Linked DNA regions of Homo sapiens: region 2 is linked to region 1. Evidence: fine-mapped expression QTL. Tissue or cell type: whole blood. Region 1 holds a variant in brackets; the other region holds the start of a gene. All regions are shown on one strand. Distances are from middle to middle.

The links. PIP is the estimated chance that this variant, and not a neighbour inherited with it, causes the effect. A credible set is the group of variants that fine-mapping cannot tell apart.
Region 2: it holds the start of CLDN10, and the variant in region 1 is the best candidate, but not a certain one, in a credible set for the expression of CLDN10 in whole blood (TOPMed, PIP 0.57).

Annotation. Positions count from the first base shown.
Region 1 is chr13:95,482,460-95,485,366 of GRCh38, reverse strand. All of the region lies in intron 3 of CLDN10-AS1 (CLDN10 antisense RNA 1), which reads left to right. It also overlaps a transcript of CLDN10 not described here. Among named protein-coding and RNA genes, the nearest start is that of CLDN10-AS1, 50 kb to the left of the region's middle. The variant C/G (reference allele first, on the strand shown) is at 1,582.
Region 2 is chr13:95,551,000-95,553,906 of GRCh38, reverse strand. CLDN10 (claudin 10) reads right to left here and starts at 1,187. Exons shown (of 5, transcript NM_006984.5): 1 at 934-1,187. The coding sequence starts at 1,153.

The DNA of each region.
Region 1 (2,907 bases):
TCAAATGGATTAACTGCAAGTTCTCCTCCCACTCTGCTCCTGGTGGATAAAGTCCTCTAGCCAAGCAACCCTCCTTATCAAAGGGACCAGGCGCAGTGCTAGGCTTCAGGTCCCCGTCAGCCTGTAGAATTATCCAAGCAAACCAAACACATCCTCTTACAGGAACCAGGGGCACCTCGCCCTCTTGTTACTACAAAGCCTGCCTCCCACAGCTTCCTGGTGGTTCACTCTGTTCCCAGCTGCAACCCCCACGTGGCTCTCTGTGGGGCAGTGTCGTCCTTCCCTGGGCCATGAGCATATGTGACTAATTACCTGCTGCCCATCTCATCTGTCTAGGCTTGGATGTTGTACATTCAACCATCCTCTCAACTCTAGGGCGGAATCCCTCCCTCACCAGTGGGGTGAAGTGGAGGCAAACTAAATCAAACTAAATAAGACCCCATCATACCATGTTGTATTGCACTCTGCTTCTTTTTTTTTTTTTTTTTTTTTTTTTTTTTTGAGACAGGGTCTCACTTTGTTACCCAGGCTGGAGTGCAGTGGCACAATCTTGGCTCATTCCAACCTCCACCTCCTGGGTCCAAGCGATTCTTGTGCCTCAGCCTCCCGAGTAGCTGGAACTACAGGTGCTTGCCACCACACCTGGCTAATTTTTGTGGGTTTTTTTTTTTTTTTTTTGTATTTTTAGTAGAGACGGGGTTTCGCCATGTTGGCCAGGCTGGTCTTGAACTCCTGACCTCAAGTGATCTGCCCACCTTGGCCTCCCAATGTGCTGGGATTACAGGCGTGAGCCACCACACCTGGCCTCATCCTGCTTCTTTACACACTTACATTTCCTGCATAACTGAAAAAACTTGACCTTGTAACACCTCTTTTCAGGGGAATGACATATAAAATTATTCATAATGACAGACTATGAAATATTTTACCAATATTTTCCTTTAAGAAAGATTAGGGAAGTAGTGTTTAGGATAGATTCTACATGGAACAAATTAGAAGTAGAAAGACCAGTCAAGAAGTATCTGAACAGAATGATAGCCGAGTGGTGTGCAGTGGATACTGTGATATGCTGCCCAGAAAGGACAGTGAAGGACATCAGGCCCCAGCTGCTAGAAGTGCTGCTGCAGTCAGCCTGTAGCTCTTAGCCCTCTCAGAAAGTGACTGAGCTGCAGAGAGCTGCCTCACCCAAGGACATGCCCTATCTTTGTCCTTTTGGGCTGCTATCCTACCAGAGACTAAGTAGTTCAAAAACAACAGAAATGTATTTCTCACAATTCTAGAGGCTGGGAAGGCCAAAGTCAAGGCACCAGCAAATTTGATGCCTGGTGAGGGTTGGCTTCCTAACTGATAGAGAATGTCTTCTTACTGTATCCTCATGTGGTGGAAGGGATAAGGGAGGGACCTCTCTGGGGTGTCTTCTATAAGGGCACTAATCCCATCCCGAGGGCTCCATCCTTGTGACCTAATCACCTCCCAAAGGCCCCACATCCCAATACCATCACCTTGGGGGTTAGCATTTTAACATACGAGTTTTGGAGGGACACAAATATTCAGACCATAGCACACTCATGCCTGGGGAAG[C/G]TCATATCGAGTGACCAATGGATGGTGGAGCATAAGGGCTTGGCCAGCTCAGCCATGCTTGGCATGTTTCTAAAAGTCCACCTAACTCCAGAGCTCTTGGTGAGGTTTGCTGAGACTGTCAGCCTTGGGTTGTAGCTCAACGTCACTGCTCTGCCCACTCCTGCTTCTGTCCCCTACCTTCCACAGGTGTGGTCCCTCCCACAGGCACGCCTTCATGAAATGCCTCTTTAGAGTCTGGTTTCTGGGGATACAACCTGTGATGCTTAAAAAATTAAGAGGCCGGGCACAGTGGGTCATGCCTATAATCCTAGCACTTTGGGAGGCCAAAGCAGGAGGATTGCTTGAGCTCAGTAGTTGAAGACCAGCCTGGGCAACATAGTGAGACCATGTCTCTACAAAAAATTTTAATAAAAAAGAAAGAAAAAAAATTAGAGATGAGAAATGAGGGGAGGAGAGGGAAATTGAGAAATAAGCTTAGATAATTTTCACCCTAAGGGTAAATCTCCCAAATAATGTTTCCCCATCTTCTCAGAGAGCCCACAGTCTGAACGAGGAGAAAGCTGTTCAATGAAAAATCAATAAGTAGTCAGGTGAATCCTCCAGGAATCTGCACAGAGTGGCAGTGCCACACCTTTTACATAAACCAACCTCCTCACTCTCCCCTCCTCAGCAGCTCCCAGGCCTGAGGACGGGCAGCGTCACTTTCTCCCAAGAACGATGGAGAATCATTTCTCACCAGTAAGAATGTTGGCCTCACATTAAATTCGTGATGTTTAATGGGCTTATTTATGTATTTATTTATTTTTGAAATGGAGTTTCGCTCTTGTTGCCCAGGCTGGAGTACAGTGGCACGATCTTGGCTCATTGCAACCTCTGCCTCCTGGGTTCAAGAGATTCTCCTGTCTTAGCCTCCGGAGTAGCTGGGATTACAGGCACACGCCACCATGCCAAGCTAATTTTTTGTATTTTTAGTAGAGATGGGGGTTTCACCATGTTGGCCAGGGTGGTCTCAAACTCCTGACCTCAGGTGATCCACCCACCTCAGCCTCCCAAAGTGCTGGGATTACAGGCGTGAGCCACCGCGCCCAGCCAGTTTATTCATTTATACTTCAATCAGGATTAAGTACATCATGAGAATAAAACAATCCAGATGGTTCTGAGACTGAATCTGAGCTCCTGGGTAACACAGCAGGGTGGATCTGGACTAGACTTCCTGCCCTGGATCAGCAAGATTGGTCTCATAGGTGTGCACTGAAGGCAGCCCGAGAAGGTGTGATTTGATGGGCACCTAGAAGACCCATCTATCCCCAAAAGACATGACTCAGT
Region 2 (2,907 bases), 69 kb before region 1:
AATCCTGGAAGCAACGGGCCTAGAACTTGAGCAATCAATGGGACCGGGCTGACATCGGCTGTTGTCTTGAAACTCAACAGAGCCAGAGTTCTGTGTGAATATCCACCAGCTGCTACCAGCATAAGGCCTGACTAACCAGAGCAACGCAGGTGAACCTCCACAAAGGAACAACCCAGGACAGCAGCAGGCACCGGGGACTCGGATGCAGAACTGGTCAGCTCCCGGCGCCACGCTCTCACGGCCCAAGATTCCCTACCCTCTGCGGACTCATCGCGGCACCGCAAGGGCTATTATTTTCCTAAAACTCGGAGGAAGTGTTTGTAGTGTTGCCTAGGCAGACAAGTTTGTAGAAGCTCTTTAAAGGGAAACAATAACAACAACAAATTCTGCAATATGTTTTCCCGCTTCCAACCTCTCAACCCCCACCCCCGCCTACTTTTAAAAGAACCAACGAAATGGCTCAAGGGAGGTCAGGACAAACGGATTTGGCTTGCAATGACACCATTTTTATCAGAACCCAGCCTTCGGGGAACGTAGGGGAGGGAGGTGGAGGAGACAAGCCCCTGCAGCATGAACTCTGGGTCCCAGCGGTCCCCAAGATATGGGGGGTGGGGGAGGGCAGCCGCTTCCTTGACTCTCAGGACCGCAAAGCTTCCCCATCCCCCGACGCCTGGGAGTCACCAACCCGGGCCTGTCTGCGTGTCCCCCCTCCCGGGGTCCCAGGCTCGAACAGGCGCCCCGCGAGACAGCCATCAGGAGAGGGCGGGCACCAGGAGCGTCCCTGGCTCCCTAAGGCCCTGTTGGGAGAGACGGGTCGGGCCTCAGAGGAGTCCAGTCTAGGGGTCCCGCTGGGGGTATTGGGGGCGAGAGGGCGCCTAGCGGGCTGGCCATCAAGGAAGGAGGGCTGAGGGCGGGGGCCGCGGGGATGCAGACCGTCCAGCGCCAGCATGGAGGGGAAGTCCTTGCAGTTGGAGACGCCCGTGGAGTCGGTAACGCACGCCTTCCACAGGTTGGCCCAATAGGTGGCGGTTGTGATGACCGTGCCGTCGATGGTAGACACCTTCCAGTAGTCGGTGGGCAGCGTGGAGGACACCAGTACCCAGCCTGAGATGGAGACCATGAAGGCGATGATCTCCGAAGCCGTGCTAGCCATGCCGCCGGCTGCAGCCGCGCTCGCTCTCCGGCTCCCACTCTGCGCCGCGACCCCCGCACTCCCAACCCCGGGGCTCCGCCTCCCGCCTCCGCCTCCGCCCACCGTCCCCGCCCACCACCCCGCCCAGCGGACCCGGCGCCAGGGGGCGCACGCGACCCCTCACACCCATGCCCTGTCCCTTGAGGGGCCTCAGAGGGCTCGCGGTCGCCCCCCGGGTTCTCCATCTGCAGCTGGCCCGCGCCCGCGTGCGGGAGGAAGGCCGGCCTGCGCTCCCCTGAGCCAAAGGGCCGCGGAGAAGGGCTCGCTTGTTGGAGCGGCTCAGGTTCAGACTGGCAACCGGGTGTGGACAACCTGCTGCGCCCCCACCTCACCACCCCCACCCAGCCCTACCCAAGGCAAATAGCTTGGCTTCCTGACTACCTTGTAGAAGCAGAGCAGGAAAAGCCTTTTGCATGCCCTGAAAGGACACGGTTTGGTAACTCAGCCCTCGGTTTGCTGAACTCTAAAGGTTTGCGTGCCACGCTTGTTTGGGTGACTCTGTTTGACTTGTCAAGGAGGGATCATTGCAGATTCTGGGCTGGAAACCGGCCTTGCCCTCAAAACTCTGCAGTTCTTTTTGGCCTGGTGCTATGCGGAAAGTCATGGCAAAACGGTGCGTGGCACAGGCCTAAAGTCAAGATAGCAGCAGATGGGGCATCCTGACGATCTTGATCTTGCTGGTGTACTCATACTAATGCACTACGCAGAGGGCATTTGTTCAACACATTTTCCCTGTAGGTCCCTTCCAGCTTCCAGGTCTAGAGGCTATTCTATGAAAGGATGCTGTTATCCCAGTCAAAACTGCTATCTTGTCTTTTATTTTTTTTTAAACCACCTCCATCTCTCACGCCTAATTGAAATATAAACTCATTCATTCCTTCATCCCTTCATTGCTGTCTCAAGGTAAACATAAAGATCAAGGTGTACTTCTGGCTCCTGAGGCCACAAATCTGGGCATAAATGAGAGAACAAGGACACGGGTTATTATTTGTCCACTTAAAGGTTCTTGCAGTTTTGTTATGAGCTTCCAGGTTTCACTTGTTGCCAAAAGTAAGGAAAGGTCTAAAACCTATCAATCAGTCTGCTGTGATAAATCTCGTGCTAACCCTCTGTGTCACTATCTTTAGGCAGAAACACTCTGGTTCAATGTGAAGAATTTCTTAATTTCCCTTTGTCACTTTTTTTTTTTAACCAAATGGGTGCCCAGTGAAATTAGAGGCGACAAGGTGACTGGAGAAGAGAGGAAGCTGGACATAGAATCATCAAAACTTAGATTGGAAGAATCACTGTAGACCAGCAGGACACGCTCCACACTCAAAACAATGTTCCTGTCTATTTCTAGAGATAATGTTTAGCCCATGCTCCACCCTTCAGGACCAGCAGTTCAGTGCATGGCAACGTATCTATTCTGTTTTTCTTCATGTTGTTTTGACAGCCCTTTAAAAAAGCTTTTCTTCCTATTGAGCCCCAAATCTGTCTCTCTTCAATGTCTACCCGAATGTTGTAATCTGTGCTCTGAGAACACGAAGTAAGTCCTACTCTTGTTGCAGCCGTGCAGCGGCTGGCAGGTAGTGGGCTTCTCTGTGCTTAATGGTCCCATGGCTTTCGTGAATGGGTACAAGGGTGACAATGCAGACATGGTTACCCTACTGTTCTGCTCTGAACCCCAGCTTGTCCTGATGTATCATGTTAGGTTCACTGGTAAACTAAACTTA